Linked DNA regions of Homo sapiens: region 1 is linked to region 2. Evidence: fine-mapped expression QTL. A gene starts in region 2. The other region holds a variant in brackets. All regions are shown on one strand. Distances are from middle to middle.

Region 1 (4,378 bases), 20 kb after region 2:
ATGGCAACTCTGGAAATCACATTACCTCACCTCCCTTAAGTTTATAGTTTTTGTCATATGTCCTTGCTCTCTATTTGTGACTGTATCAGTTTGCTAGGGATACTGTAACAAAGTGTCACAGACTGGGAGGCTTAAATGACAGAGATGTATAGTCTCAAAGTTCTGGAAGCCAGAAGTCCAAAATGAAGGTGTCAGAAGGCTAAGAGAAGGCCTTTCTCCGTGGGTGGAGGATAGCGATCTCCATGTCCATGCCTTTCTCTCTGTGTGCATGCTGGTCTCCACATTGCCCATTTGATAGAGACACCTGTCTCACTGGATTAGGCCCTACCCTAATGACCTCATTGTAATGTGATGACCTCTGTAAAGACCTTGTCTCCAAATACTGTTGCATTCTGAGGGACTTCAACATGTAAATTTGGGGGTGACAGTTTACCTCATAATAGTGACTTTCCTAGATTGATTCTGTGAAGTGTGTATTCTTTATGATTTGTGGCCACTGAATACACGGGCCCTTTAGCTGAGTGGTCTCCTGATGCTTGGACAGGGATTTTCGTAAATTCCCTGAGCCAGTAAGTCTCCCGGCCTGTGATGAGAGCTGTGGGTCTGTGGGGCTCACCTGGTGTGCTCCGGTGGCTGCCAACTGTCTTAGCCTTTGTGTGCCACCTGCACAGAGTCTCCAGGTCAGTCAGCTGGGAGGTTTTCCTGGGCCTGTGCGCAGTCATCTCCAGACATACGCTAGAGCCTTTCAGAGCCCCATGGACATCTCCAGCTTTTCCTTCTTGGGTTCTTGGCCAGCCTCTTGTTTGCCCAACTAGTGCCCCAGCCTCTGGCAGCTGCAGGGTGAAACAGTTGCCACTGGTTCCTTTTGACAAAAGCCCTCAGGAACTGGGCTGTTTTCACTGAGTGAGATCAAATAAAGACAAATCCTGCCATGAGGCTTTTCCAGAGGGTGGCCAGGTAAACCCAACAGTGACAGTTCTCTGGGCCTGGGGCCTTGAGGACCCGTTCTCCATTGAGTGGCTACCACTGAGCTGGGGAGAAGGGCTGGGAATGGGGCGAGTTAAGATGCCAGCAACTCCTTGTTCTTAGCAAGACTCGTTGTCTTTCTTGAATCAACACTCCTCAGATTGTTGAAAGCCTTTCTTTAGTTTCCAGGGTTCTGAAAGAATTAATTCTGACCATTTTTGCTAGTGTTCTTGTTGCTTTAATGGAGGAGAGCAGATTTTGGAGGTCCTTATTCGGCCATTCCAGAACTACTTTAGGATGGGTTTTGTAAAGTTTTCTCATCTTTGTGGACTGGTGCTGTTATAAAATATGGTTAAGTGTCTATGGTAGTACTAACTTGCTCTTAAGTTTCTTGAACTCCTGGCTTCAAGCAGTCCTCCTGCCTCAGCCTCCCAGGATGATGGGATTACAGGCGTGAGCCACCACACCTAGTCTCTTGCTCTCAAGTTTCTACATGTTTTCTGTGCTTTATGTAACTGCTTCATCGTGGACAGGCTACAGACAGATTGCAGACCACATGTGGATCAAGCACAGTCTCCAAGTACTAGCTGTTCCAGGAAGAGTCACATTTGTCCCTTTTTTTTTGAGATGGAGTCTCGCTCTGTTGCCAGGCTGGAGTGCAGTGGTTCGATCTCTGCTTACTGCAACCTCCGCCTCCTGGGTTCAAGCGATTCTTCTGCCTCAGCCTCCTGAGTAGTTGGGACTACAGGTGCACGCCACCACGCCCGGCTAATTTTTGTATTTTTAGTAGAGATGGGGTTTCACCGTGTTGGCCAGGATGGTCTCTATCTCTTGACCTCGTGATCCGTCCGTCTTGGCCTCCCAAAGTGCTGGGATTATAGGCGTGAGCCACTGCACCTGGCCACATTTGATTTTATTTCTGAGTGACCCAACCGTGGGAAATATGGCTCCCAGGGAGGCTTCCAAGGCCCTCTGGGGAAGTGCTTGCGTAGACCCTGGCCCACCAAAACTCTTAGTATGGGTTGCTGCAGACGATGGTGCCTGAGTTGTGTAGGTCTCACGCTGCCTTCCTGTCTGAGTAAAAGCCCTGCCTGTTCTTTGCTATGGGGTGGTGGAAATGTCCATGAACCACTGTGGTTTCTGGTGCCAGGAGAGGGCCCAGCGGGGAGTCAGGTTCTCAGCCTCCACTCTGGGGTTCTTCTGTGAAGTGGAGAGGCTTTGCAGAAACCACATTGCAAAGTAGTCTGAGAAAGAAGAGGTTTCCCCAGGTGGAGAAGGACATGGGGGTGGGGCATGTGGTGGCTTCCGCTGTAGACTCCCCTGCCTGGGGCTTTTTCCA[C/T]ACCCCTACTCCGATCCTCCCACACTGCAGCCTGTCTGGAGCTAGCGTCATATCTCCCCAGGTAAGGAGCTCAGTTTCGTGGGACTGCCCCCACTTCCTGTGCCAGCCGCAAATGGGGGCCCCTGCCACCCGGCACAGGACCCCTCCTCGTGCTTGGAAATTTGCTAGGACTCAGGAACTCAGGAAAAATTTTACTTATGAAACTTATTTTTCATGAAGGGCTGAAAGTTCCTCCCCTCTACTGACACATTTGATTTCTCCGGGGAGCCCACCCTGGCCACCTCCTCAGCATAAGCTCTGTGGTGGGGTCGTTTTGAATCACAAAAGACAAACCTAGCACTCAGGAAATCCTCAGGGTTTTAAGAACTCTGTTCTGGGAACCTGAGAGAAGACCGTGTGTTTTTATGATGCCATGCCTTGGTTTAGGGTGCCTTTTGTATGTGCCCCTCCTGAGAAGCTCTTTGACCCTCTTATTTGTATATATGTCATCTGTGGGCTGGGCGCGGTGGCTCACGCCTGTAATCCCAGCACTTTGGGAGGCCGAGGCGGGCAGATTACGAGGTAAGGACATCGAGACCATCCTGGCTAACACGGTGAAACCCCGTCTCTACTAAAAACATACAAAAAATTAGCCGGGCATGGTGGTGGGCGCCTGCAGTCCCAGCTACTCGGGAGGCTGAGGCAGGAGAATGGCGTGAACCCAGGAGGCGGAGCTTGCAGCGAGCTGAGATTGCGCCACTGCACTCCAGCCTGGGCGACGGAGCGAGAATATGTCTCAAAAAAAAAAAAATGTATATATGTCATCTGTGATGTCCCCATTTAAAAATCTGTCAGAGGGGAAAGTAGCTTTTCCCTCCGTTGTAGGGTGGTGGGGGTGTTTAGACAGGGGTGGCCATCTCCTGTTCCTGGGAAGTTTCTATTTGCTGGTCCTCCCTAGCGAGGCTCTCAGGTTGTGTCCCCGCCCCCTGCTCCTCCCAGCTGCCTGTGCAGAGGTGCCAACACCTGTCCTTGGACTGTCCCCTGGACAGCCTGGGGCGTGGGGTAGTATCCCCTCCTTGTGTGGACTCCGGAGGTGGGGTTGACATGTCAGGAGGGGCGGGTTGATGCCTGTGAGGTGTGGTGGCCACGCGTGTATGCTACTTGATTAAAAAGGGAAAAAAGGAACAACTGGCATCATTTCCTTTTCACAAAGCTTGTGGTGATCTCTTGGTATTTTGTTGCTAGCTGTGGGTTGGTGGTTCATGGCTATTAAATTTAGGTATTAGTGACCAAGTGTTTTCTTTTTTTTTTTTCATCTTATTTTAAAATTTACATAGAGTTAAATTCACTTTTTGGTACAGTACTGTGAGTTTTGACAAATACACAGTCATGTAACCAACACTGCAATCAAGATGCAGAACATTTCTGTACATTCCAACATTCTTCTTTGTTGGTCAAACTCTCCCACCTGTATCCTCTGGTGGGCACTGAACTGCCCCTGTAGTTTTGCCAGATCCTGAATGTCCTCTTAGTGGAGTCACCTGGTACGTAGCCTTTGAACCTGGCCTCTGGCTTGGTGTGGTGTGACGCATCCGTCGTGTGGTCATTTGTACTCCTGAGTGCTGGCCACCAGGTGGCTGTGCCCCTCAGTGCGTCTCTCCATTCTTCCTTGAGGGACACTGACAGGTTTCTGGGTTTTGGTGATGGGCAGTAAGGCTGCTGTAAGGTCGTCCAGGTCTGTGTGTGATGGGCGGATTCGTTTCCTTCAGGTAAACCCTTGGGATGGGGTTGCTGGGCTGTGTGGCAGGTGCACGCTTATGTTAGCATTGCCCTCACACCTTTCTCAGTCACTAGGTGACCGTGGAAGTGTGTCTGTTTTGGGGCTGTCTACTGTCTTTCGAGCTGTGTGTCCTTTTCCTGATGCCACACTTTCCTGATGACTTGAAGTCTTGATACTGGGAGTCCTCCAACTTCGTTATTCTTTCTCAAAAAATTGTTTTGGCTATTCTAGCTCCTTTGCTGTTCCATGTAGACTTTAGAAACAATATGTCAGTTTCTATAAAAAATTCTGGGCTGGGTGCAGTGGCTCACGCC
Region 2 (4,378 bases):
GGGTTGGGGGCCGGGGACCGAGTCTCGTTCTGTTGCCCATGCTGGAGTGCAGTGGCTGGATCTTGGCTCACTGCAACTCCTGCCTCCCAGGTTCAAGCAATTCTCCAGCTTCAGCCTCCGTAGCTGGGACAACAGGCACCTGCCACCAAGCCCTGCTATTTTTTTTTGTATTTATAGTAGAGACAGGGTTTCACCATGTTGGTCAGGCTGGTCTCGAACTCCTAACCTCAAGTGATCCGCCCGCCTCGGCCTCCCAAAGTGCTGGGATTACACGCATGAGCCACTGTGCCTGGCCTTGCTCACTATTTTTTCTGGAGACGGTCTCGTTCTGTCACCCAGGTTGGAGTGCAGTGGCCCGATCTCAGATCATTGCAACCTCCACCTCCCGGGTTCAAGCGATTCTCCTGCCTCAGCCTCCCGAGTAGCTGGGATTACAGGTGCCTGCTACCACGCCTGGCTACTTTTTGTATTTTCAGTAGAGATAAGGTTTCGCCACGTTGCCCAAGCTGGTGTGGAACTCTTGAGCTCAGGTGATCCGCCTGCTTCGGCCTCCCAAAGTACTGGGGTTACAGGCGTGAGCCACAGGGCCCGGCCCACTATTTTTATCACTCAAGATTTTCGTCTACAGCAGCTATTATTGGGGTGGCTACCCAGTGGAAAATTTTTCTATTTCCACTATTCCTTCCACATTTATTGACAGGAAAGCTAGTCTAAGGAAGAGCTGTACCCTCACTTACTCAGACCCTCGTTTTCCTTTTTTTTTTTTTTTTTTTTGAGACGGAGTCTCACTCTGCCGCCCAGGCTAGAGTGAAAGTGGTGCTATCTCGGATCACTGCAGCCTGGAACTCCTGGACTCAGGTGATCCTTCCACCTCAGCCTCCCGAGTAGCTCGGACCACAGGCGCCCGCCACCACGCGGCTAATTAAAAATAATTTTGGGCCCGGCGCGGTGGCTCATGCCTGTAATCCCAGCACTTTGGGAGGCCGAGGCGGGCAGATCAATTGAGGCCAGGAGTTTGATACCAGCCTGGCCAACATGGTGAAACCCCGTCTCTACCAAAAATATAAAAATTAGCCGGGCGTGGTGGTGGGCGCCTGTAATCCCAGTTACTCGGGTGGGTGAGCCAGGAGAATCGCTTGAATCCGGGAGGCAAAGGTTGCAGTGAGCTGAGATCGCGCCACTGCACCCCAGCCTGGGAGACAAAGCGAGACACCGCCTCAAAAAAAAAAAAAAAAAGAAAGAAAATTTGTAGATACTGGGCTCTCACTATGTTAGCCAGGCTGGTCTCGAACTCCTGGGCTCAAGTAATCCTCCTGACTCGACCTCCCAAAACTCTGGGATTACAGGCGCAAGCCACCGTGCCCGGCCGAACCACCGTGCCCGGCCGAACCCTCCCTGTTTTGGAAATCCTGTATTAGCAAAGGGGACAGCGCCAGACAGTTGAGCACACGCGTTCTTTATAAATGATGATGTCTGATACAGTGATGCTTTTAACAGGGTTGTGTAACGCCTGTGTGTGCACGGTCTCTTCTGCAGTGTCCACCGAAGGTGGCCCGTCTGCGTGTCCGCTCCCGGCGTACTCCGCGCTCCCTGTTCCCGGCATTCCCCGCGCTCCCCGAGCTTCCCGCGCTCCCCTGCTCCCGGCATTCCCGGTGCTTCCCGTTCCCGGCGCTCCTCGCGGCCGCCGCCCTCAGTCCAGCGAGCCCCGCCTGGGCAGCGACTGTTAGCGCGACCGCGGCCTGGGCGCCTGGTCCCTCCCGCGCGGCCGCGCTATTGGGCCGCGCGCGGCGGACACACGCGCTACGCGCCGCCGATTGGCGGCCTCCGCAGCGCGCTCTGCGGCTCCCCCAATGCGGGGCGGCCGCGCGCGGGGATTGGCCGCACGCCGCGAAGGCCCGCCCTCCGCTCGCCCGGCGCGGCAGGCGGGTGCCGGCGACCGGAGAGCCTGGACAGGCTTTCCAGATGGCTGCGGCGGTCGGTCGGTGAGGCTTTCCCGGCTGTGGTTTGGCTGCGGGCGGCTTGGGCAGCCCGCGGGCGCCTCAGGTAGGTGCGGGGCGCGAGGGGCGCCCGCGGGCGGTTGGGCGGGCGCCGCGGCCTGCGCGAGGGCGCGCCCTTCCCTCCCGCCTCCCTCCGGGACCGAGGCCGCGGGCGGGGCGGGGGCGCGGAGCCCGGCCTTTGTGAGGCAACATGGCCGCGGGCGGTGGAGAGCGCGGGGTGGGGACGCCTCCGGGGCTGGGGGGCGGGCCCCGGGCCCAGGCGTTGCCGACTCTCGTCGCTGTCCGCCCGGGTAAAGAGGCTCCTCTCCCGGAGGGCCCGAAGCCTAGCATCGCCTTCAGGCGGGAAAGGTGTGGACAGGGCCAGTGCTCGCCTGGGACCCTGCCGGCTTTAACACAGTTTGGGAAATCCAAGAAGTCGCCTAAGTCTTTTTGTCCACAGAATGCTCACGGGTTGAGTGTCACGTAGATAATTGGGATACGGTTTTATTGTAACAATGAGCATGGCGGAAATAAATGGAAGGTGGCAACCTGTTGACAGTGATGCCTGTCTGGTGTCAACCGATGGACTTGGGTTTCTTGTGGCAGGAGTCTGATTTGCCTTTTTGCATGCTTGCATGTACCTTGTTCCTGCACGGCAGTCCTGTCTTTGGCTGTCGACTGTTCGAGGCCAACCACCAGGCGAGGATCCACTGTTTCCTGGCCAGACTAGACTCCCAGCTGTGGGAGTGGCCCAAACCCTGCTGCAGGCCTTCACTCACAAAAGGGAGTGAATGGCCAGCCCGGGGTACCCAGTGTTGCCTCTAAGTGCGGGATATGAGGCCTGTTGGAGGATGACAAAAGGAACGGATGAGGTCATACTGCCGCTGGGTTGGGCGGGAGGCTGCAGCGGGAGAGACTTGACCAAAAGGCAGCCTCCATGGCGCTGGCACTGGTGCTGGCCCGTCACAGCCAGTGCCTCTGTTAGCCAACACAGCAAGTGGGCTAGGAGGAAGGGTGCTGTCCAAGTGTACGGGTTTTCTCCCCGTGCCAAGGGTCCAGGGGAGCTTGCCGTGAGCCCGTTCCTGTCCGATAGTCCTGTTGGCAAGGCAGGGTTTGCATGCGGTGTTTGGTCAGCTGGAGCAGTGGGGAGGCCTACGGGCAGAGAGCTCCCCTTTGAGCCCTTTGCGGCCAGGCGCTGTGTGGAGCACTTCCCAGGGGTTGTTTTGTAGTCTCACCGTGACCTTGGGGTAGGAAATGTGCTTCTGGCTGGCTTGCCCAGTCTTAGACTCTCTTGTTGTAGCCCTCTCCTTTGTGATGTCACCCAGCCTCCTGACTTTAATGCCAGCTTTCCTTGACATCTTCACAGCTCCAGCCCTGGCCTCTCTTCTGATTTCCAGCCTGGTGTTTCTGGCCACCTCTTCCATATCTCCATGTGTTACTTTGGCGCCAAGTAGCCATATCCAAACCAAACTCAAATCTTCACCCATGCCAAAACATTCCTTGGCCTATCTAAAGTCCCTTTGATTCCTCTCTTTCTTACACCTTCATGCAGTCCTAAGGAGGCCCCGTCAGCTCACCTATTTCTAAGCACAGACCATTTCTCACCACCTTCAAGTTAACATCCTGGCCCAGCCTACCTGGTGAGCCTCTAATTCTCTTTACTGTCACCTTAGGTCCTCACTCCCCATCCACCATCTATAGTTTTTCTGGACACAGAGTGATTCTTCTTTCTTTCTTTTTTTTTTTTTTTGTTTTTTTGAGACAGAATCTCGCTCTGTCGCCCAGACTGGAGTGCAGTGGCGTGATCTCAGCTCACTGCAACTTCTGCCTCCCGGGTTCAAGCGATTCTCCTGCCTCAGCCTCCCAAGTAGCTGGGACTGCAGGCGTCCACCACCACCACGCCCGGCTGATTTTTGTATTTTTAGTAGAGACGGGGTTTCACCATGTTGGCCAGGCTGGTCTCGAACTCCTGGCCTCAAATGATCTGCCTGCCTCAGCCTTCCAGAGCGCTGGGATTACAGGCGTGAGCCACTGTGCCTGGCCACAGAGTGATTCTTTTTATTTTTTTGAGACAGAGTCTCGCTTTGTTGCTCAGGCTGGAGTGCAGTGGTGCGATCTCCCGCTCACTGTAAGCTTCGCCTCCTGGGTTCAAGCCATTCTCCTGCCTCAGCCTCCCGAGTAGCTGGGACTATAGGCGCCCACCACCACACTCGGCTAATTTTTTGTATTTTTAATAGAGACGGGGTTTCAATGTGTTAGCCAGGGTGGTGTCGATCTCCTGACCTTGTGGTCCGCCTGCCTCAGCCTCCCAAAGTGCTGGGATTACAGTCGTGCACCACCGCGCCCGGCCCAGAGTGGTTCTTTTAAACCATAAGATGGTATAAAACAGAGGCGGTGTAGAT

The links. PIP is the estimated chance that this variant, and not a neighbour inherited with it, causes the effect.
Region 1: its variant is the best candidate, but not a certain one, in a credible set for the expression of DGCR8 in whole blood (TOPMed, PIP 0.60).

What each region holds. Positions count from the first base shown.
Region 1 is chr22:20,098,496-20,102,873 of GRCh38, forward strand. The region is part of intron 9 of DGCR8 (DGCR8 microprocessor complex subunit); the gene reads left to right. Among named protein-coding and RNA genes, the nearest start is that of MIR6816, 14 kb to the right of the region's middle. The variant C/T (reference allele first, on the strand shown) is at 2,306.
Region 2 is chr22:20,078,341-20,082,718 of GRCh38, forward strand. It overlaps DGCR8 (DGCR8 microprocessor complex subunit), which reads left to right and starts at 1,901. Exons shown (of 14, transcript NM_022720.7): 1 at 1,901-2,043. RefSeq lists a silencer at 1,780-2,399 and an enhancer at 2,660-2,719.